4 separate regions of the Homo sapiens genome follow, and all the other regions are linked to region 3. The links come from fine-mapping of genetic effects on gene expression. A gene starts in region 3. Each other region holds a variant in brackets. All regions are shown on one strand. Distances are from middle to middle. Region 1 has its middle 48 kb from the start of EGFL6. Region 2 has its middle 34 kb from the start of EGFL6. Region 3 holds the start of EGFL6 (EGF like domain multiple 6). Region 4 has its middle 26 kb from the start of EGFL6.

Evidence for each region.
Region 1: its variant is fine-mapped to the expression of EGFL6 in aorta (GTEx, PIP above 0.99). The same link has a PIP of 0.9 or more in gastroesophageal junction.
Region 2: its variant is fine-mapped to the expression of EGFL6 in subcutaneous fat (GTEx, PIP above 0.99).
Region 4: its variant is fine-mapped to the expression of EGFL6 in subcutaneous fat (GTEx, PIP 0.98).

The regions. Positions count from the first base shown.
Region 1 is chrX:13,518,758-13,524,961 of GRCh38, forward strand. No RefSeq gene overlaps it. Among named protein-coding and RNA genes, the nearest start is that of EGFL6, 48 kb to the right of the region's middle. The variant A/G (reference allele first, on the strand shown) is at 2,428.
Region 2 is chrX:13,532,750-13,538,953 of GRCh38, forward strand. No RefSeq gene overlaps it. Among named protein-coding and RNA genes, the nearest start is that of EGFL6, 34 kb to the right of the region's middle. The variant C/A (reference allele first, on the strand shown) is at 2,797.
Region 3 is chrX:13,566,604-13,572,807 of GRCh38, forward strand. It overlaps EGFL6 (EGF like domain multiple 6), which reads left to right and starts at 2,998. Exons shown (of 12, transcript NM_015507.4): 1 at 2,998-3,332. The coding sequence starts at 3,259.
Region 4 is chrX:13,540,623-13,546,826 of GRCh38, forward strand. No RefSeq gene overlaps it. Among named protein-coding and RNA genes, the nearest start is that of EGFL6, 26 kb to the right of the region's middle. The variant C/T (reference allele first, on the strand shown) is at 2,625.

The DNA.
Region 1 (6,204 bases), 48 kb before region 3:
GACCCTAGGGTTCCCTGTACCCAGCGTACTGTGGGAGCAAAAGGCACATCCGTTTTGCTGTGTCTGCAGGAAGTTTAAGAGAATCTCCAAGAGTCTCTCAGACCCCTGAGATGGCCAAGAGCAGCAGATGTTTCCCTGGTACCAGAAAGTGGTAGTCACTAGCACTGCAGGTAATGTGAAGCTGTTTCCAGAAGCTCTTTAGAAGCAATAGAATCTGCCATTAAGATTGAAGATCACAAATACATACAGAATGAACGTAAAAACCATGGCTGAGAATTGAATACTCAGTGGTCCCCAGAGACAAGTGGCTGTATCTCAAAACAACTTAGATAAAAACAAAGATGGTGGAAGCCTGGAAGATGCCTGTAGATGGCTCCAGAAGTGCTTCCCAGAATAGTGAAGACATCATTGTTGGAAGTTGAATGTGGAGAATCTGAATAAAATATCTTTCATAAAATGTGAGCAGGGGAAAAGTAATGTTATATATTGCATGTTACTTAATAAGGGGTTCCCAACAGGAGGCAATTTCGCCCCACAGAGGACATTTGGCAATGTCTGGAGACATTTTTTGTTGTCAGAACTTTGGCAAGGGTGGGAAAGTGCTACTGGAATCTAGTGGGTAAAGGCCAGGGTGTTGCTAAATGAGCTTCTGCTCTAGTTTGTGTTCCTACACCCAATAACACTAAGCCTTGACAATGACCAGTTCACAGGGCCGTGCTGTCACTCGTGATTGGATGTACCTCGTGATGGATGTTGGAAAGTTTCTCAAAGCATGTCCTCAGGATCCCTAGTTGCATAAAACATCTCTAAAGAATGGCTTGCATGGTCTTAAGATTTGGGAAAATGCTATATTCCAAATTCTCCCTTGTAACTTGGCAATGGACAGTAGTATGTTCAAGTCTCTGAGAAGTCCTGCAAAATGTTGGACTTGGATTAATCTAAAACTTTCCAAATTTGTTTGATCACAGAGCCTTTAAAATTTTTTTCTGAAGGACAGAGGGCAAGGACACTTCTAGTGTTGTCATGTTTGACTGTTTACATGTTTAAATACATTTTATTCTGAATTACTTTCATTTTATTCCCTTTTGTATTACTATTAGAGCATCATACCAATTTTGGGGCAAAAGTACGTAAAGGTGGGTTGTATTGTCTGTGAATTTCATGTAAAACTAGGAAAACAGGCACTGTAAACTATTTGTTATAAAAAGAGTGTATGGATATTTGTCGTAAGAAAACGGTATAGGAAAACCTCTGTGTGTGTCTCGGCATAAAGGTAAAATGATCACCTAAGCTACGCTCTCCATCAGAGATGAGTAGAGGAGGGATGTGAAATCCTGCTGAGATCACAGTATTGCATTACAGAGCTAAAAGCCACCCTGGGCTCCTCTAGTCCCACCTTTCGCTGTACAGACAAAGAAATTGAGATTCAGCAAGGTTCCATGACTTACCCAAGGGCCTCAAAGTTACCACAGAACACAAAGGGCCTTCTGGCATGGCCTGGTCATACTGCATTTCTTGAGTGGGTGAACAGAAAGTTCCAGAAGCAAATATTGTACCATTGTTTTCATAGAATTTACTGTCTTGGTTCGTGTTCACAAATCCCTGAAGAGCAATAGAGGGATGATATGTTAAACATGTTTCCCTGCAAACTCTCCATTCCCTCGAACTGTATTTACTCTACCCTAAAGCAGAAAGTTTAATTGTCCCCCTGGATGTGCTGTGTGATGATATTTTGGAAAGAGAATTGACCAAGGAGCCAGAAAATATCTTACAAAAAAAATCACTCTTACTCTTAAGAATAACACCTTCTACATTTCCTTAACCATAAAAAGTATTACTCACTTCATTGTCCAGACTTCGCTTAAATGAAATGTGACTCTTTCAAACAATCACATCAACCCTGAAAGGATCAAGGTTTGTCATGACTAAGTATTTTCTAAAGTGAAAAGTTAAGAGGGTCAGAGGCCTGGCTTTTGCCCTGGCTAGTTATGTGTACTTGAGATTGTCACTTCTCTTTTCTGTTTTCTCCATCATAAAATAGGTATAACAATGTATTTTCAGTTTTTCTCAGAGTTGTTTTGAAGGTAAAATAATACCAGGTATATGAAAGCTCTTTTAAGCCTTTATAAAGCCTCACAAGTACAAGAGATTGTGGTTATGCCATGCACAAAATAGCTTTTCCAACCTGAAATGAATATGAATATTTCGGGAGATGTCTGTGTTGGGTCTCAGACTAATTTAGATTCCTAAATTTGATAACTGTCAGGTGGTTTCAGAGTGACTTGCTGATTATTACAAAGCAGTCTGGCTTTCTCCCTCTGGGTGAAGCCAGCAGAGAGGCCAGATATTTCTGGAACTTATATCCAGATGTTTCCAACATGCTTTCCAATTTACACTCAACTGCAATGGTATTTCTCCATTTCCCCA[A/G]AGAATCAGGAAATAGAAATGTTTCAGCACACAGAATTGAATATTCCCAGTCACGGCAAATATGTACCTTGACTTGGAGAGATTTCTGGTTGCCTGGAACATTGTCAGACAGACAGGGACTGGTAGCCCTTGGGCTTTTTTTTCTCTCATTTTTATTTCTTTCTTTGTTGTTTATCTTGTCAAAGACCTCCAGCCCAGGACTGCCAGGAACATACCTATAGTTGAACACATTGGGATTACTGCTTTTTGCAATGAGGGAGACTGCACACCATGGGGGAACCATTGGACATCTCATTAAGAGATTTTTAGAAAAAACTTATTTTGGGGTGTGGGCTTATGTTAGGTGATTTAGGGGAGGGTTTAAGGAAGCAAGGTTTTGCTTTAGAGTGGTTGCTGTTAAGAAGTGGAGGTAATTCTATTACTGGCCATATTTGGTCATTTTTGTGACCTCACAATGCTCCGTCTTCTGTAGTCACACATGATTACAGGCCAGTCTTTATTTTTATCTTTATCCATCATGGTCACAGAGTGGCCTTGTCTGATGTTGTTGGTTTATAAAATATTTATGTTCAATAGGAGGGCACCAAGACCCAACCATAAGTACCAAGCCAGCTTCTAGCAACATCAAAGTCTAGCTCAAGTTTGTCCAACCCACAGCCTGTGGGCCATATACAGCCCAGGATGGCTTTGAATGTGGCCCAACACAAATTTGTAAACTTTATTATAACATCATGAGATTATTTTGCAATTTTCTTTTTAGCTCATCAGCTATTATTCATGTTAGTGTATTTTATGTGTGGCCCAAGACAATTCTTCTTCTTCCAATGTGGCCCAGGGAAGCCAAAAGATTGGACACCCCTGGTCTAGCTGATAGTGCCAGGCTGCCAGGGGCTATTCTCTTTCTCAATCTTTGCCATGAAATAAAATCCAGATATAAATATCTACGCACAACAAAGACGTAGCTTAATGAATTTTTATAAGATAAACAGCCTTGTAACCATCATTCAGGTCAAGAAATAGAGCTTTGGCAGTCATCCCAAAAGCCCTTCAGTTGTCCTAGTTCAGTCACAGCCCAAAAGTAGCCACCATCACTGACTTCTAGTCATCACTTCCTTGTGTTTCTTTATCTTTGTAACAGACGGTGTCTCTCTCTAGACACTGGAGTTTTGTCTGGCTCATTTTTTAAAACTTGATATGATGGCCGGGTGTGGTGGCTCACGCCTGTAATCCCAGCAATTTGGGAGGCCGAGGCGGGTGGATCATGAGGTCAGGAGATCGAGACCATCCTGGCTTACACGGTGAAACCCCGTCTCTACTAAATATACAAAAAATTAGCCGGGCGTAGTGGCGGGCGCCTGTATTCCCAGCTACTCGGGAGGCCGAGGCAGGAGAATGGCGTGAACCCCAGGGGGCGGATATTGCAGTGAGCCGAGATCACGCTACTGCACTCCAGCCTGGGCGACAGAGTGAGACTCCGTCTCAAAAAAAAAAAAAAAAAGAAAGAAAAAGAATTACATATGTTTTCCTCCATCTTTCTTTTCTTATAATTTACCTATTGAAAAACCAAAGCCAGTCAATCTATAAGATTTGTAAGTGTCTGGATTTTGCTATTTCATATTCATGGGCAGTTCAACCCTGACCTTTGTCTTCTATTTCCTTCCACTGACATCTGGATTCAGAGGTCTAAATGGACTCAAGTTCAATTACTTTGGCAAGTCTGTAGGTGGTGTTGTATTCTTTCCTCAAGAGGCATATTAAGTATCCTTTGTCCCTTGAGCTATTTTTATAAGAAAAATGTATGCTTTCTGTTTTCAGGTGTGAAATGCTGATTTAGACAGAACATCCCCAACCCCTGAGGAGACCAGCTGTGATTAGGTAATCCTGCCCAGAGGAAACTCAGAAAACATTGTTGAGGAAGGCTTCTTGGAGCACAGAGTATAAGGGATGTCATCTTGCAGTTGTGCTAAACGTCTCCTTTCCCTTACATTACTGTGAAAATGTCCCTTTTAGTTTTATATGTGGTGTGGAAATGCCTGTCCTCTAGAAAAACTTAAAATAGAGCATGGTGACATCTGGCATAGATCATACTTCTTTGTGATATGATGAAAAATGCATGGTCTATTAACTGAAACTATTATTACTGGAATATAGGACTCTGTGCTTGCATCCCACAATGCACAAGGTACCTAATAGTCACTTCTTCACTGATTCCATGAAATAAGTAGGAAAAACATAGTTCATAATAACGAAGGGATGCTGTCCACCATTAACGGTGGTGTCAATCTCTCCATAGTCAATAGAGCTTCGTGTCATCTAATCCAAAAGTTAAAGAGGTCAACTAACAGAGATCATTAATGTTTTACTCATGTGAACAAATACCATGACTCTTGACCAATCTTCAGTGTCATACTTCCTTTTTCAGTCAAAGTTTCATCAGGAAGACAGGATCTATACCAGTTATTTTAATAGAGTGAATTTAATATAAGGAATTGGTTAATGGTGTTGGAGAACTGACAAGTAAAGAGAATCCTGAGTTGTCTCAGAGATTGTAACTGCAGGAAGCAGCCACTACCCCTAGGGCTTGGTGGGAACAGGGAGAAGAGGTTTCTGAACCTAGAAGATTGGAGGAGGGTCCCTATGAGGCTGTCACCCATGGCTCTGAGTGGGGAAACTTTCTGGTGGTCCTGATGGTTGAGTGGGTGGGATAAGGATGGTTCCAATGATGTAGGAGGAAAAACAAGAATTGGAACCACCTGCTAGGGAGAACCATTCATGAGAAGACACTAATAGGAATGTTAATAAACAAGAAGGAACACATTCTTCTCTCTCCTCCAGTCTTGCTGCATCCCTCTATTATCCCTTCATGGCAGAGTCTGACAGGGAGCAACCGGCAAAGCAGAAATGCAGCAGAGTGATTTGGGGGCTGAGAGACAAGAGCTTAATAACTGGCACACTTCCTTTTTTCTTCTGAACAGATTACTGTGATTACCCTTGTTTTCAAAGAAAGTATCAGTTTAATCTTTTGAAGCTTGTTGGTAAATACAAAGTCATTACTAAACAAGGGAGTGGGTATTGATGGGTGTCTTGAGTATGCTCAGCTCTAAAAGCAGTTCATAATTTTGAGAGTCAAGGAACCACAGCATGGGGTTTCAAGTCTCTGGCTAGTGGGCATTCTCCTCTTCCTTTGCAATAAAGTTCTCATAAATGCCAATGTCTTGGTTTAAATTGTTGAGCCTGTGGTCTGTTTTCCATACCACTATGAATTACTTCCCAAGACATTTTGCGTCCAGCCTTAGGTTTCTAATGGCTAGGAGCACAGGACATGTGGTTATTGCAGTTTTGAACTTTCTCCAAAGAGATCAGTCCTAGAGTCCTGCCCTTCTCTTTCTGTGTCATTATCACCAAAAGGCAGAAATGAAGGCTTTACACTATGAGCTTGGGCCCAAAATGGGCAGGATCTTTCTGAATGTGGGGTGATCAAGGAATCCTGGAAACTTTGGGGGGTTGTGCATGATCTAAGAGTTCCCTGTTATTGAGCAGAGCATCTGAATAAATTCTTTTGGGAAAAGGTAGCAAGTTCAGATACACATGGTACTCTCATTCAACATGTTGTGCCTAGGACAAAGGAGATACTCAATGACAGATTATCATTAATTTATTGACTACTTTAGGAAATGTTTATTGGATACCTATTGTGTGCCAAGCATTGTTTTAAACCCTGCTTATACAGCAATAACAAAGCAGATGATATCTTGCCCTCATGAGACTTGTATTCTA
Region 2 (6,204 bases), 34 kb before region 3:
AATAGTGAGAGAACGGCAACAGCTAGCTGACAAGAGAAAATGTGAAATAATCACAGGGGCAAGTAGACTAAATTTTTTTTATCATCTGGCTCAGAAAAGCAGGCTGACATTATAGCAGAGATCCACAACTTCTCTATAGTCTGCACTGAACTGGACTTAGAATGGAAACGTCCTGGATTCTGGGGAAAAAATAATACAGATATGATTATCAAGGCAGTTCTGTAAAAATCATCAGTCAATCAAGTCAAATATGATTCTCTGAGGTTCTGCCAGTTTCAACCAAAATTGGACTTACAGCAGGGGTTGGCAAACTGTGACCCTCTGGCCAAATGTGTCCTGCTTCCTGTTTGGTAAATAAAGTTTTATTGGTACACAGCCATGCCCATTTATTCCCATATTGTCTGGCTGCTTTCATGCTACAATGCCAGAGTTGAGTAATTGCAACAAAACCATCTGGCCTGTTTGCCAGCCTCTGTCTGAAGCATACTATGAACAATAAAGGTAGTCACAGAAGGGTTGGAGGTAGCTAGTGCCAGATCCAAGAGAGGGTGCGGGAGGACAGGGCAGGCAGGTGAGCTAACAAGGGCAGACAATAATGGTATCTTAGTTAGGGTAGGCTAACTGCTGTAATAAATGGACTAAAAAAATGAATAATGGTTCAAACACAGCAAAAATGTATGTCTCCCTCCTATAGTAGTCCAGAAGGGGTAAACAGCTTACAAAGCCTCTGCTATTTTCAACATGTAGCTTCCAAGGCCACCCCAGAGGTGGTCTCCATTCAAGCCAAGTGGAAGAACGTGGAGAAACATACATGAGAGATGTTATGGGTCAAGCCTGGAAGTAATGTTCATCACTTCTGCTTCCATTCTCATAGCTCAAACTCACTCTTATGGCCACATCTAATTGCAAGGAAGGCTGGAAAATTTAGCCATGTGCCCAAACTTAAAGTTTCACTTGTGCCCAGAGAGAAAAAATAATCATGGATTTTGGTGTTCAGCTAGTATTCATCTGCCACAAAGAGCTCCCACGTATGATGCTTCATATATACTTATTAACTCACATAATCCTCCCTGCAACAACCCTGAAAGGCAGGAACTGTCAGTATCCCCTGTTTTCACGTATGAGGCACAGAGAAGTGATGTAACTTGCCCAAAGCAATACAAGTGCTTAGGGTTGGAATCCTGGCACGTGAGTACCATGAGTCATACATGGGTTAACTGTCCCATGCCATCTCTCTGCATAACTAAAAATGTGAGGCAGAGGCAGTGGACAGAAGCCACAAAGCTGGACCAGCAGAGGATCAAAGCTGAGAGTAGCAATTCCAAGGGGAACTGGGAGTGTTTGGAGGGTCAGGAAGAGCATGAAGGGCTCCTAGCTAATCCAAGAAGAAAATGTCACAAGTGACCTTCCAGAAATTTACCATTTTCTCTTTAGGGTGGTTTCAAAAGCCAAAGCAAGTGAGGGAGAAGGGGAAGGGCTGGCTGAGCTGAGGTGAAGGGCCAACAATTGGGTTTCTGTCACAAAAAGAGGTTGTGTTGACTGGGCCAGAGCTTCTTAAACTGTGATGCGCACACAAATCCCCTGGGGATCTTGTTAGCCTACGGATTCGGATAGAGTGGGGCTTGAGATTCTGCATTCCTAAGAAGCTTCTAGGAGGTACTGATGCTGCTGGTCCATGAGCCACACTTTAAGTGCTAAAGAACCAGGCAAATGGGAGCAAAGTCGATTTTAAATGGCAACTATGGCTTTGAGGCAGCCCTACTAGGGGGATTCTCTTCAGGGTTCAAATGGGGCATAGCTTTAGATGAGATGGGATTTGGGGGTAGGAGATTCTAAAACCAACCTCCCAGCCAAACCATGACATTCAGTGGCCAGAAAGCTCTATGCCTGAGACTGTGTCTCATCAACAAAGACCTCAAACCAGCTGCCAAGGCTCTCTCTCCTGATTTCCAGGCCTGAGAATGGAGGGAGATGACCAGGAGAACATGGAGAGCTCATGTTTGGGGGAGAATGAGGGAGTCTGAGCTGAACTTTGTGGCCATTTCAGACACACACACACACACACACACACACACACACACACACACACAGAGTCAACATTTATGGAACTAACTTTATTGAGCAGTTACTAGGTAAAAGCACCATTTCTTATACTTATGTGTACAGTCTATAAGGATACATCAAACAGTTAACAGTGGTTGTCTCTGGGTCATGAAATTTGAGGCAAAAGAGTTTTTTGGACTTTCTATTTTAGACAGTTCTGTGTAATTCTGGGTCATTACACATACACTGAGGGTCAGAATACACCACCTGGGCTACCCCAAATATACCAAGCTTCTCCTGCTTCTATTCCTCTGGACAAATGCCTTGGCCTAGAACTCCCTTGCCCACCTGACAAATTCCTACTCTGTTTTCAGGTCCAGCACCCGTGCCATCTCCTCTAGGAAGCTGCCTTGGTGAAGTTCAAAGCTGAATCCAGGCTCCACAATCACAATATCCCATTCACCCTATCATGACACATTCTTACCACAGTCTATTGCAATATTTGAGTCTTTTCTGCTATGTCTTCCACTGGATGGTGAGCAACTTGAAGGCAGAGGATTTTTTTTCCTTCTTTCCTGAATGTCTAGCTCCCAGCTTAGGGCCTGGTGAATAGTAACCACTTAATCCGTGTTTTTAATGAATCGCTGTATGGATACACACACACTTATCATGCACTGTGGGTCTAGTTTTTAGCTGCTATCATCTGATTTTGGAATTTGCGGGCCATGCTGTGACCCAGGCCAGGGCTGCAAA[C/A]TGTGGTCATGATGGTTTACCACAACCTGTGATCTGGGCCAACTTCCTAATTAGGGGTAAGACTGCTGGAGTTACCACTTACAGGGCATTGAAATGACTTAGCAAACCCATACTTAGGGTCTTGTATTTGATTTTCAACAGTCACATAGCCCCAGCTAGAGGTGAACTTGAAGTAGCATTGTCAGGCTCACAATTTGTTCAGGACCTCGCTTTGCTAGTGACCTACATTCCCCATCTGTAAGTAATTTAAATTCACCTGGCGTTCTGTTAGGAGAAGGTAACTGAGTCGTGTTAAGGCAGACTGCCCCAGCCCTCACCACTGGAGAGATCTGTCTCAGCAAATCCTCCCTGAGAGACTAGCTCTCATCCTCTCTGAGCCTAGCCATGGGGGTAAAGTGCTGGCAGGCAGCCTTGTTTTCTGGCTCTCTGCAAAAAGCAAGCTGAAAAGAAAGAAAGTCTGTTTGCAGAGGAAGGAACCTATAGCAAAAATGGCAGAGATAAACAAGCTGGCACACAGCCATACTTATTTTGAGTGATACAAATCCTTGGGGATCACAGCCTTAGACACATAGAAAGTAGCTAAGAAATACTGAGCAGGCCTAGCATTTTGCATGTCTGCGAGCCAAATCATACTTCATTATCCTCAAAATTGTCTAAGGCGGCACTGTCCAAGACAGTAGCCACTACCATCATGTGGCAATTAAAATTTAAATTAATAAAAGTGAAATAAAATTAAATACTCAGTTCCTCTGTTGCACTAGCCATATTTCAAGTGTTCAGTAGCCACATATGGCTAGTGGCTACCATATTGGACAGCACAAATATAGAACATTTCCATCATCACAGAATGTTCTATTGTACAGCACTGGTCTAAGAGTGAATTATATTTTGTGCTCTTTTCTCTTCACTAAATATACCCAGTGAGCCTTTTTTTTTCCTGGTCATTTTCCCCAGCTTCTGAGGGGGCCTTGCCTATTAAGACCCATTCTCAGAATTGAATGGAAGGGACCAAGGAATGACTTAGCAGGCAAACCCCATCATATGAGTTCATTGTTTTCAAGTTCTGTTATTTCCAGCAGAACATCCCCCACTGCCTTCACCACTGGCTCACGGGGTCCCAGCAGCCCCAGCCAGCTTCACTCTTGCTATTTCCACCAGGACACATTTCACACAAATGAAAGCAGGATTCGTAGAGTGAAGGAAAACGATGAACTTCTGGGATGAGGTTTTAACAACATTTCCAAATGTGAGGCGTAGGCTATTCCTCTGAGTCTCAGATGGCATGGTTTCCAGCATTTTGAAGGCAGCTTTGAATACCTCTGGATATTTTATAGGCTGAGGAAATTGAGGCCTCATTTTATACCATATTATAAAGGATCTCCCAGAGTGGAGTAGAAAATAAGTTCAGATTCGAAGCAGATTTTCCTCGAATGGCCATTCCCTCATTTTTAAAGAAAATATGTGCACCATCACCATAGTCAGGGCACAGTTAGGAGTAAGGAGAATGAAAAGAGGAATTGATTAAGAGGAATGGCTTCTTTTAAAATGTCATTTTCTTAAAATATGGTTTATACAACGTATATGTGTATGTACATGGAAAAAGTGTACTTTTTTGTTTGTTTCCGGGATCCCCGTTAATATCAAGAAGACACTAGAGACAATGATGAATCAGACATCAGCGAGAACCCTAGAAATCTAGAAACAATGGTCAGTTTGGACGCTGCTAAGCAGACAGACCTGAGTTACTGCAGATTTAAAAGGCATTAAGATGCCTCAGTTTCCCCAAGTGATCCTCTTTTGGGAAGTCCTAGATGAAAACAATTTGGAAAAGCCACTGACCAAAGTAAAAGCATGTTGTACCCCATTTCCTCCACCAACAGCCATGTTCTTTTAAAATTACTGGATATTTCATCAGTACATCTAGAAAACAATAGTGTCTATCTGTTGTTTTTTGTGTTTATACCAGGCTATCCTCCAATAATGGATTTAAATATAAATCATTGCAAATATAAAACATTGCAAATTTTTTAAACTCATTGATTGCTATACATGTATCAATCATTACAAATATATCAATTGCTACATGTGTGTTTTTTATACATTGTATCAAATGTATTGATTATTACAAATGTACTTTTAAATGTATTGATTGGAACAACGTTTAAACACAAGAGATAAGGTTACATTAAAAAAGTAAGTTAGTCTGGGTAGGGCCTTTGGCACATATAGCTACAGTTAACATTAAACATAGCCCACCTCCTAGCCAAATTAACATAAAGCCTTACACTGAAAGCCTAATTAACTCAGTTTTTATTACCAGATATATCATGATCACTTCCAACAAAAAAAATTATGAGATAAGCTAAAGGCAAGGAAAAAATACAGTCTAAAGAGACAAAACAAGCATCAGTATCAGACTTAGATGTGATTCAGATTTTGAAATTATCAGATAAGAAACTTAAAACAAATATTATTGATATATTAAGGGCTCTGAACTTGGCCAGGCCCAGTGGCTCATGCCTGTAATCCCAGCACTTTGGGAGGCTGAGGCGGGAGGATTGCTAGAGCCTAGGAGTTCCAGACCAGCTTGGACAACACAGTGAACCCTTGTCTCTACAAAAAAAAATCAAAAAATTAAAAATAGCCACATGTGGCGGCACACACCTGTGGTCCCAGCTACACAGGAGGCTGAGGTGGGAGACCACTTAAGCCCAGGAGATCAAGGCTGCAGTGAGCCGTGTTCATGCCACTGCACTCCAGCCTACCTGACAGAGAGAGACTCTATCTCAAACAAACAAAAAGTAAGTGAAGAAATTAGGTAAAGAAAAATAAGAAGCAGCCAAGAGTGAACTACTCAACATGCATACTGTGGCCAAAATTTAGGCTCTAAGCCTTCAAGCAGCCAACTCAAAGAGAGAGACATAGGCAGTTACTTGATTCAGCATCCAGAAAGCATAAACTAATTCTTAGTTCTTTTCTCCCCTAGTCCTAGCAAAGAGGATGGGGCAAAAGTGCCTAACAAGGACCTCATCAACACCCCTGTGAAAAATAAACAAGTTTGATCCGTTTGTTCTTCTAGTAAGGCCAATGCAAATATGCAACTCCGAAAGTTTCGAAAGACAATTCTTAGGCAAAGAGCTTGGAAATCAATATATCTTTGTCCAGTTAAACAGCTTCCTTTTTATTTTTTTTCTATACAGGGTCTCACTGTGTTGCCCAGGCTGAAGTGCAATGGCATGATCACAGCTCACTGCAGCCTCTACCTCCTAGGCTCAAGTGACCCTCCCATCTCAGCCTCCTGAGTAGCTGGGACCACAGGTGCCTGCCACCAAGCCTGGCTAATTTATTATTATTTTTTATTTTTGTAGATACACAGTCTCCCTATGTTGCCCAGGCTGATCTGGAACT
Region 3 (6,204 bases):
CAGGCAACCTGTACTGACATTAAATCTTGAAAACACTGGCCTAGGCACTCTTCTATGCAGCTCTTTCTTCTGACAATGCTTTGCTTTTGGTGCTGATATTACAATAATTTTTAGATCTCAGTGCCTGGCACATTGTAAGTGTTAAAAGTTTTATACGTGTGTCATGTATATGTATTCAGAAAGCACAGAAATATCCCATCACACCTGTTCCACACAGGGGGTTAAGTGGAAATAGATTGGAAGAAAATGTAGCCCTGTAAAAGGCACGGACGATTTTATGAGATTCTGATCAAAGATTGTTTTTTCTCTGTAGAATGATGAAGTAGGGTCCCCTAAAGATCAGTTTCCAGGTTCCTCTTCAAAGTCAGCAACACCAGTGCAGTTACTAAAAACAACTGCCTCCATGTGGCAATTTGTATCCAACATCTTCTCACCTGGCAACACATCATTTGCAGGTTCCTTCTCTGTTGCTCATATTATGTGACAGCTCTTTTGTTCACAGCTCCCCCAGGAAATAATAGGTGGGTTGGCTGGGGAGTGTTTGACCTCCCCCAAAGTTTCCTGTTGTAATGTCCATTACCTCCTTTAAGCCTACAAAAGAGAATTCAGCTGACAAAGAAAAAGCACAAAGCATCAAAATACTGAAACTAAAGCTAGAAAGTTACAGATAATGTCAATGCAAGATGTTATTCTGACTTTGTAACTCAGGACTAAGAAGGCAGATAGCCCTCACATTTTAGACTAATCATGTTTAGTTAGGACTTTTTTGAGTAATGGTTTATTTGGAGGAGGGAGTGATTAGTATCCAAATGTTAAGGGAGAAGTGGCATGGGCAAAAATCCATAATTTTTAATTCGATTCAAGTTCCAGATATTAGGTAGCTGCCAATGTCATGCCACTACCCGTATCCCCTCAGGCCTTACATTTCAGTAGGACCTTCAACAGTCAGTATCACTAGCCATTTGCCTGAGGGCTTTCTTTGGCTGTAAGCCCCACTCTGTCTTCAGCACAGAAGACTGAGTTCTAGGATCAGTACCACAGTTGAAGCTTTCAGGTAATGAGTGAATGGAAGTGGTGTATAAATACCCAGTTCCCTTGCCTTTTAGGTAAAATCATTTGGAGATGCTTGTTCTATGCTGGCTCTGGGAGATCCCCAGCAGCATGAACCTCCAGTTGCTCACAATGATAACTTAATATATGCCTGATATTGTCTTCTTTCCCAACTCATTTCCTCACTCACCTACCCATGTTCTCTGTACCTCCAGAATAAACTACTTTTACTTGAATCCTTGCCTCAGGGCCTGCTTGTGGGGAAACCCACAACAAGACAAATTTTATATTCCATTTTCTTTAAGATCCTCACAGGTATAGAGTTCATAACTTATATTATTTTCTTTTAGTTTTAATATTTCAGTAAATAAAATAAGTTATGGTATGAAGAGTTCAAAGTGTTTTGATGACAACCTTGAAGAGCTCATCTTATTACCTTATTCATGATACTCATCTGACATGTGAATCTGCCAATACGTGAGAAGATGAGAAAAGAGATTGATATAACAGCAGCAGAGCCCAATGGGGAAAAGCCCTGGTTTCCAGTTCTGGTTCTATACTTGTTAGCTGTATGACCTTGGTCGGGCAAGCTGCTTAACCTCTCCGACTCAGTTTCTTGACACTTCAAACATGGGGGAACTAATGGTCTCCATCCACAGGCTTGTGGATGTTCAATCAGATAACATATGTGTTTAGGACAAGGTCTGACACTATTAATTACGAGCAGCTCAATGGTCTAACTAGTTACCCAAGAATACTGAATCCATGGGGATACCTTCAACTGTAAAATAGAAGTCCCAACTAAACATGGCTTGCACCAATAAGAACATCTATTACAATGTAAAGCAAGATTCTGCAGCAAGAATCTCCCCCCTCCCTACTTCTCACATTTCATTGGCCAGAATTAAGGCATATGCCTATAAAACCATGAATCAAGCTTCCAATCAAGATAAACCTCCTCTTTCTCTGTATCCTTTTTCATTTCATTTCTCACACTGGGCCACTGTGTGTCAGAGGACTATCACAATAAGCCTCAGTAGATTGGCTGGTGCCGGGCAACCTTAGCTGAGCTCATTCATATACGTGTGGATTGGGTAATATACATGAGGCTCCACCGAGTAGCTCTGCTTCAAGCTATAGATCTGCAGGTTGACGAGGTAGCTTTTTCACCTGTTTCTCATTCGCCTTGGACCACCAGGCTAGGTGGTGCAAGGTCTTCTCATGTCCATGATAGAGGGTCAGGTGTGTTAAGACCTAGGCTTGGAACTGGAACACTGCAACTTTTCTGCCCTTAAACCATTGATCAAACAAGTCACACGGCCAAGTCCAAAGCCAAGGTGTGGGGTCATAGTGTCTGCCTACCATGAAGCCAAAGGGTGTGGACGTAGGAAGGACAGAAAGGGATCAGTCATTCATTCTAATGTAACACGTTGTCAGAACAAAGAATGTGTCAGTACCCAAATGGATCTGAATTCATATAGCATTCATGTTTCTGCCATGAATTTCTGCACTGGTTACTATATTGGGATGTCATCTGGGGTCCCATGTAAGTAAGCTGTTGCAAATGGGCCTGAGAGATTACTTGCCAAATGACAGGGTTGCCCAGGACTTAGTGACCTTCCAGCTCTAGCATCCCATTATTTGCAGTTTGTAGAAGAAAACCGGGAGAACGTGAAAACCCAAAGAGAAGTGAGGGATCATGTCTTAGGAACCTGCATCCTTCCATCCTGCTTCGACTTCTCAACTAAATTCTTAAGTCCTGGAGTGCAGGTATCACCGAAATTTGCCCCATGCCTGAAATACATGGTAGTAGATGGTGACTCTGACAAGCGTGAAGTGACCTGAATCTGGGGGAAGTTTCTGGGTGAACAGAGAGCGCGGAGGATGCGCGGGTCATGCTGGAGGCGGGTCCCAGCCAGATGTGCACAGCCCGCCCCGCCCTCCCTCGCTCACCCCGTCCAGCTTCATCCGCAGAGGAGCCTCGGCCAGGCTTGCCAGGGCGCCCCCAGCCCCTCCCCAGGCCGCGAGCGCCCCTGCCGCGGTGCCTGGCCTCCCCTCCCAGACTGCAGGGACAGCACCCGGTAACTGCGAGTGGAGCGGAGGACCCGAGCGGCTGAGGAGAGAGGAGGCGGCGGCTTAGCTGCTACGGGGTCCGGCCGGCGCCCTCCCGAGGGGGGCTCAGGAGGAGGAAGGAGGACCCGTGCGAGAATGCCTCTGCCCTGGAGCCTTGCGCTCCCGCTGCTGCTCTCCTGGGTGGCAGGTGGTTTCGGGAACGCGGCCAGGTGAGTGTCTGACTGGCGATTGGCTTCCCCCCACCCCCGGCCTGAGGTCCCGCTTTGGGGCCCCATGTCTTTGCAGGCACCCCCGCGTGTATGGGTGTGAGTGTGCACGTGTGCCTGTGCGCGCTGCGACGGGATTTAACCTGGATACCAGGCCGGGAGCGCCCACGGGCTTTCCTCCCTGCTCTCCTGTGGCGGGGCTTTGCACCTAGTTAGCTCCTTTTGCATCAGCTGTGCCCCACCTGGCTGCGTCCGGAGGGTTGCAGGAGGAGGGAGGCTCTGCACGCAGACCCGTGGGTGCGTGCGGGCTTGATGGTCTGCAGACCTGCTGTAGGGGCAGGTGTGTGAGGGTTGGTATGCGTGTCGGTGGGTGGGTTCTGTGTCTGTGCGGTTTTGTGTTTTCCACTCTATTCACAGGACACCAAGTGCTTGTCAGTCGCTAGTTTTGCTGGGGAAGGAGGGAAAGAAACCGAGGACGATAAAGCATTTACTGTTCTTGAGCTGAGCCAGCCGGGCTGCTCTCCTCACTGCTCTCTGATTAGGGTTGATGAACTGGAAAGAAAGGACACGGTTGTCAGATGACAACCATTCTCATTCTTGCTATGGCAATGCAGACTCTGAAGCCGTTCCCTACTGCCCTTAAGCTTAGCTGAGACCTGAAATATTTTTTCCAGAGATCGGCAAAGACGCTTAGTAAATGCACGCTTACATGGTGACTGTCGACCTGGCACTGTTCTAAGCACTTCAGGACTATTAACCTACCCAAAGCCATAATGGCTCTGTGTGTAAGGTACTATTATCATCATCTCCGTGTTGTAGAAGAGAAAAACGAGGCACAGAGAGGTAAAGTAATTTGCCTGAGGAAGCATAGCCAGTAAGAGATGGAGCCAGGGTGCAAACCTAGGTATTCTGGCCCAAAGTCTGTTCTTCACCAGGGCACTAGGGCAGCCTTCCGGCAACGGAAGAGGTTTTCTGGTTCTCTAACTGTGATGTCTTGCTTTCTACTTAGGTGTCCACTAGAATATGGTTTTTCCACCGCAGCATTATTGACCTTTCGGGCTGGGCTGGATAATTATTTGTTGGGGTGATGGGCTGCCCTGTGCATTGTAGGATGTTTAGCAGCACCTGTGGCCTCTACTCACTAGATACTAGTAGCAACCTTGACCCCACCCCACCCCCCACCACCACCACCACCACCAAGTTGTGGCAACAAAAAAAAGGTTTGGGATATTGCCCAAGGTCCCTGGAGGGCACAATTGCTCCTAGCGGAGACTGCTGAACTATAGAAATTTTTCAGTGATGATTCCTGAGGAGAGTAGGATAAGAGCTTTGGTTTGGTACAGGCTTCTCGAAGGTTTGCCTATCTTTGTTTGACTTACAGGAAAAAATATTTCATCAGAGTTAGCCATGGTATTAAAGGATTTCGAAGTTAAAACAGAACAAACCTCAAACCAGGTTCTTAGAATGTATGATCGCAAGTTTCAATTTCCTTTTCATGATAAAAATGTAAGCAGATGCAATTTGCTCATAATCACATTTTCCTTGAATGCTAGAGGTTCTTGCGTTGCTAGAAAGCCCACTTAAAAAAGACCAAATGCTGTTTGGAGATGAGATTAATAGTTCTTTAGCGGCCAGCAAACTGACCTCCAGGAGCTTCACTTTCAAAGTGCCACCAAATTAAATTAAAAGCCAAAAGCCCCTGGATAAACCAAAGCATATTAAACTGGAGAATCCATGTCAGGATTCTGCAATTCTGCAGTTTTCAAGATGTGAACCATGGTTTCTTTAGACGATTATCAAGTTTATGAGCTGGTGTGTTTATTATTTGCTCAATGTGCTTGGAAATGTCAAGTGGTCAGCTCTTCAGGAATGTCCAGGACCCATGTTTAATCAGCTCTAGATTCCACATTATGGATAAGACACTGTTACAGAGAAGGCAAGGCACCCATTGCAGAAAACTGTGTCTACTGGTTATTTCCTGGGGTTTCACAACTTATAGGAAAAACTGTGGCTGCTGTATAGAGATTTCCAGTATAAGCATCAGTTCTTTTTAATTGAAACACTGCACTATGATTTTATAACCTAGAAAATTATGTGCTTCTTAAATGGTATTTAGTGCATAGTACACAATTAACGCTCATCAAATGAATAAATCATTAGCTCCATGCATGTACCTGCCCTTAAGCTTCAGAATTTGGCTTGCCTTATATTTTTTATGTCCTTTGGGTATTGGAACTATTTAGATACCCTAGACCTGTCCAATACAGCAAAGATGGTAACCAGGAGCCCCAAGTGGCTATTGAATACCTGAAATGTGACCAGTCCAAGTTGAGATGTGCTGCAAAAAGTATCAAATACACATCTAATTTTCAAAAAAAAGAACAGGAACTATCTCACTAATCATTTGATATTGATTACATGTTGAAATGGTAATGTGGATATACTGCATTAGATAAAATTGTTATTAAGATTAATTGCTTCTGTTTCTTTAGCATTTAAAAAATGTGGCTACTAGAAAATTTTAAATGGCATATATGGATATTTATTTCTATTGGACAGTGCTGGTCTAGAACACTTATTGATCTGAACTCCATCTCGAGTGTTCTAAGTCCTAACACTGGGATCTTTTTGCCTTGAGTACCTAAGATAAATATATTATTAACTTTGCTATTCTGGAGATTAACGTTTGGAGCAACTCCTTCCTTACAACATATTTCTGTTTTATATTTTTTTCTCTACTGAATTCAAGTAAAAATAATGTGAGAGAGGAGGGAATGACTAGGTTCCTGCTGAGAGGCTTTACTTACAGAGACCACATGCTATGTGGGTAATTGATTTTTCTCAAAGCCCTGGTAGCAAAGTGCCACTGTAAAAA
Region 4 (6,204 bases), 26 kb before region 3:
AGATGCCTCTGAGGGCAACACTCAGTCACAGCCAGTATAAATAACCCTGACTTTCATTGCAAAACAGTTTTCACTTAAGAAAGATATACTTTTATTTTATTTGACTTTCTGTTTGAGCTGCATAGCTCAGGAATTACTCGGGATTAGGGCGGTATATTTTTTTCTTCCTCTAAGGGCTTATAAGGAAATCTAAGGGCCTACATCTTTTGCTGGGAGGTTATCTCTGTTAATATTTGGGATAGCTAATGCCTGTTGGCAGAGGAGGTGGGAAGAGATGTGTTTCATTTTTCCTTTCAAGAGGCAGGCCCAGGATTCTGGTGCTACTTACAATAAAAATTCCTTTGATGAAAGATGGGTGGAAGGACATTCCATTCCATTCAATTTCCTATTCCTATTTCAAAGAAAATAACCCGATTTGCAGGAAAAAAGAGAGCATGTATAGTGATATGGTTCATGAGAAGTCATTTGAAGTTCCTATATTTACTATCTTAAAGACTGCTGGAAGAAATAACCATAAAAGAGTCATAAACATATTGACCTGCACGTATTTCACTTCATTTCATACTTTTGAAAAATATAAAAAAGATCTATGTTCTGGCCCTCACTTATAGTCCGCAACAGAACTGTGACTTCTGGGGGCTGGGCACAGTGGCTCATGCCTGTAATCCCAGCACTTTGGGAGTCCGAGGCAGGTGGATTGCTTGAGGCCAGGAGTTTGAAACCAGCCTGGGCAACATGTCTAGGCGAAACCCTGTCTCTATTAAAAATACAAAAAAAAAAAAAAATTAGCCAGGTTTGGTGGCGTGTGCCTATAATCGCAGCTACTCAGGAGGCTGAGGCATAAGAATCGATTGAACCCAGGAGGCAGTGGTTGTAGTGGGCCAAGATCATGCGATTGTGCCACTGCACTCCAGCCTGGGCAACAGAGCAAGACTCTGTCTCAAAAATTAATTAAGTAAATAAATAAATAAATAAAGGAACTGTGACTTCTGCACCAACTGCAAACAATATCCTTAGAAGGATTTAACTTCGTACTTCAAGATTAGAATTTTTAATTTTTAGAAACTATTTTCACTGTAGAATAACACACTTATACACTGCTGGTGGGAGTGTAAACTAGTAAAACCCTATGGAAAACAGTGTGGAGATTCCTTAAAGAACTAAAAATAGATCTACCATTTGATCCAGCAATCCCACTAACTGGGTATCTGCCCAGAGAAAAATAAGTCATTATATGAAAAAGATAGTTGCACACACATGTTTACAGAAGCACAATTTGCAATTGCAAAAATGTGGAACCAGCCCAAATGCCCATCAATCAACAAGTGATAAACTGTGGTATATATATGATGGAATACTACTCAGCCATAAAAAGGAGTGAATTTATGGTATTAGCAGCAACCTGCATGGGATTGGAGATTATTATTCTAAGTGAAGTAACTCAGGAATGGAAAACCAAACATCAAATGTTTTCACTCATAAGTGGGAGTTAAGCTGTGAGGATGGAAAGGCATAAGAATGACACAATGGACTTTGGGGACTCTGGGGGAAAGAGTGAGAAGGGGGTGAGGGATAAAAGACTACAAATGAGGTTCAGTGTATACTGCTCGGGTGATGGGTGCACCAGAATCTCACAAATCACCACTAAAGAACTTACTCATATAACCAAATAACACACGCACACACACAAAGAATTAGCCTTGCTGTCCACATCATGGTTTTTCTTTTTCTTTTTTTTCTGCCTATGGGAAGTGGGAGCCCCAAGTGTCCTGAATGGCTACCAGTCTACGGACTTCCCTAGACCCAGCCATGATTGTCCAGTTCCTACCACATGGCTGCAGTCTGTACGTCCTCTTCAGCTTTCCAGATCTAGTGTAAGCTAGTCCCCCTTCTCCTGGAAACTGGGCCCCATCCCTGAATGCTCTGCTGCTGGTGAGAGCCCCACTCTACCCTGAAAATCCAAGAAAACCATGATGCTACTCTTTTCCTGATTTGCCCATCCTACAGCCTAGCAAAAACGAATCATGCCCAAAACTCGTTAGAGCAAATTTAGGCTTTTCTTCATTGCCTCCCCACTTTCCCCCATATTGATGCTTTAATCAAGTCCAATTCACCAGGCTACTCTAAACACTGTAACTTGGACTGCTGGCTTTCTCTCCAGAGTACGACAGGCCCAATTTTCACCCACTGGCCCATGTTACTGAAATCCCAATATGCCCATGGCTGGTTATGACATGCCCTAAACTGTAGGCCTCTTGATGGCATAAATAAGACATACCTCAGTCCAGTTTTCTCGGTACCTAGCAAAGAACCTGGTACAAAGTTAGTGCTCCAACAGGGTTTATGAAAGAGAATTTAAATCAGATGCCATACAGCAAAACATAAAATGCTATGTATAAACACTATTATTATGAGTCAGTATTATGCCAAACTCATTTCATCCAGCCAAGTATAATCATGTAGTTAGCCAGAACACTCCTCACCAAACCCTTATGTAACTGGCTTTTAAAAATATTCTGCTTTTTCATTTTTAAAAAGAAGCAGGTAATAATAAAATAGATCATTTATAACTGCCAACTTGTAATCATCTGGGGAGCTTTTAAAAAATCCTGATGCATCGATTT[C/T]ACCCCTATCCCCACGCCCGGCCAAAATTCTGATTTCATTGGTCTGAAATGAGCCCCGGGCATCAGAATTTTTAAAAACTCCCAAGGCGAGTAAAATATGTGGCCAGGGGTGAGAACTGCTGCTTTAGGGGCAGCTTCCCAAACTTTAATGTGAAAAGAAAAAAAATCACCTGGGGCTTTGTTAAAGTGCAAATTCTGATTCTATAAATCTCAGTTGGGGCCCAATTCAGCACTGTCTACCAGAATTAAAATTGCCTGTGCGCTCTGACCCAGAAATTCCCCAACTAGTTATTTCTCTCATGGACATACTCACACATATGCATAATATCAAATATATGTAAAATTCATTACAGTGGAGTTTATGTAACACCCTAAATATCTGTCAGGAGAGGACTGTTTAAGTAAATGATGGTGCACCCATAAAATGCCATGGAAGACTTTATAACCTTAAAATATAATTGGAATAATCTGTAAACTACAATGTTAAATGAAAATAAGAGTAGAAGCAGGGTAAATATTTACAAACATATTTTTATAAATACACAGACTAAGGAAAGGTCTGAAAAAAAAGGTAACAGTGGTTATCTTCAGGGAGAAAAATTGAGGGACTGATGTCACATAGAAAACTAAATATAATAATCCAGATTTAGTAGGTAAAGGTGATTAGTATTATTGTAAGGGGGTGCAAGGGACTATTGCTCTAGGCAGGATACACCAACAGTAAGATCTGCAAGCTTCTCAAGGTTTAGGCAAAAATGACTTTTCTTTTATAGGAATGAGTAAATCAAGCCAAAAATGAGCAGGGGTGGGCAGTGGGATGAACGAGAGTGGCATCGTGGAACAGCAGATCAGAGAAGGTTTTACCCCCAGGCCAGCTTGTTCTCTGGAGTGGCTGGTTTAGACTGCGGCTGGGCCAGAATGTCAGAGTCTTGGGGAAAGAGCATTTTGTCCCGATTGATCAGCAGGGACAAAAGAGCTCAGCTAGTCATTTTTAAGGAAAAGAATAGAAATTTGGAGAATCTGTATCTGGCTTTGTACTAGGTAAACGAGGGGGGGTTATCTAAATCATCATATGAGGAAAGGTGGTTCTTTGCAATAGTCATTTCCTGCAACACAAAAAAAGTGGGTGAGGGGGTTTCTGAGCCTTCTGCTGTTTTCCAGGTGTGTAGGGCTCAGGTAAGGCTCCATATTGTCACTGGAGAGAGAAGGAGCAGTGGTTTCCATGGCATGTCCTTTTCTCCTTTAAAAATTTTTTCTACCAGGCCGGGTGCAGTGGCTCATGCCTGTAGTCCCAGCACTTTGGGAGGCCGGGGGTGGGGGGTGGGGGGGTCACCTGAGGTCAGGAGTTCGAGACCAGCCTGACCAATATGGTGAAACCCCGTCTCTACTAAAATTACAAAAATTAGCCAGGCGTGGTGACATGCGCCTGTAGTCTCAGCTACTTGGGAGGCTGAGGCAGGAGAATCACTTGAACCCGGGAGGTAGAGGTTGCAGTGAGCCGAGATCACACCACTGCACTCCAGCCTGGGCAACAGACAGAGACTCCATCTCAAAAAAAAAAAAAAAAAAGAAAAAAAAGACTACCTAACATACATTTAAATTTTAAACAAATACTATATTTTAAATGAATAAACAGTTTAAGACCACAAATTCTGGAAACCTCTTTTCTTGCTACAGTTTAAAATTCTTCCAAAATGGCTTTGCATGTAGAGAGAAGACTTGGGCAGTGTTCATTGAAATTTTGGGGAAAGTGCTGAGAGCCAAGAAGCATTTCCAGTGCTTCGATAACTCGGTTCTGAGTTTCGCTCCTACAGATAGATGTCAGGGGGACTATGTGGGCGAAGCCAGCATACCACATTGAAGAAACACCCCCTATCTCTCCCTGGGTTTAATTTCACAGCCAGGCATTGAAGTCCATTCCCACAAATGTGCCGAGTTTTGTAATCTCCACTTCTCATACAAACTAGAAGAACAAACCATGAAATAAGAGACAAACTCTGGCCCAAATACATGCAAATAAAGCATTCCTATTCCTCTGCTCAAAGGGATTTTGCTGAAGCACTGCAGTTCTGTCACATGGAGCCCTTGTAAGGGCACAGGAGATTAGCAGAGTTGGGGAATTTTCTCTCACCACTGGGGCCTGCTATTGTTCCCATTTATATTTTTGGCTTCAGTTGGCAGCCTCCTTTTACTATTCCTTCATCGCTTGCACCTGCTCCATCATATTTTGGCCCTGGCTTTTTGCCCTACAGGTGCTTAGGTAATGTTTACACACCCAAAGATGCAGGCCTTATCAGAACTCATGTTGCACAGTGTTAACTTGATCTGCCTCTTCTGAGCACCTGAAACTTGATTTCAGTTGCCAAAATTCACCAGTCCAATTATTTTTTAACCACAATTGAAAGAGTTACATTACCAACAATATTGCATGAAAACAGAAAAGTTACTTCAGAATAATTAAATCCACCTTTGGGAAAATGAACTATACACAGCTTTATAAATAGTTAACTTAAGCAAAAAGATTAAGGCAGGACTAGAGATGGGCTAGTTGTGACAATTCCCAAATGGACCTCAGTGGAAAGGGGTGATTTGTAAACATGAGGGCTGTTAAAATACACCTTGCAGATGTCTAACTGCAAGGAGCTGAAGTGACTGACGGCCCCAGCTGCTGCCTCTGAAATTCATCACAGCATTTGTGCCAAGGCCACCCCTCCCATGCCTTGCCCTTGCTGATGACTGAGTGTGGTGGGTACTAAGCCAGCCCATTACTGGGATACACAAGTTTCCTCTAATGGAAGATTCTGACTTCAAGACTTCCAGGCAGCTCTGCCAAACCTTCCTTTTGTCTGCTTAGCAGTCGGATTCTTTCACCAAACTTCTCTTCCTCACTTGGGGTCAGACTTGCATTGAAGTCTGATGGCAATGTAGCTTCCCCAGTTCTGTCCCCCAGTTTCTCCTTTTGTGGTTCCATACAAATTTTAAGATTGTTTTTTCTATTTCTGTGAAAAATGCCATTGGTATTTTGATAGGGATTGCATTGAATCTGTAGATTGCTTTGGGTAGTATTGTCATTTTAACAATATTAATTCTTCTAATCCATGAGCGTGGTATATCTTTCCATTTATTTGTATCCTCTTCAATTTCTCTCATTGATGTTTTGTGGTTTTTCTTGTAGAGATCTTTCCCCCCCTTGGGTACATTTATTTCTAGGTATTTAAAAAAACTGTTTTGGTAGCTATTGTAAATGAGATTGCCTTCTTGATTTCTTTTTCAGCTAGTTCACTGTGTATAGAAAATGCTACCAACTTTTCTATGTTAATTTTCTATCTTATAACTTTACTGAATTTATCAGTTCTAAGAGCTTTTTGGTACGGTCTTTAGGTTTTTCTATATATAAGATCATGTCATCTGCAAACAGGGACAATTTGACTTTCTCCTTTCCAATTTGGATGCCTTTTATTTTTTCCTCTTGCCTAATTGCTCTAGGTAGGCCATCTCTCCTTTTACACAACCTGGAAATGCTGGCCACCATCCCCTGTTAATTTCGGCATGTCTTTTGTTTCTCTTTAGACTGCATAAT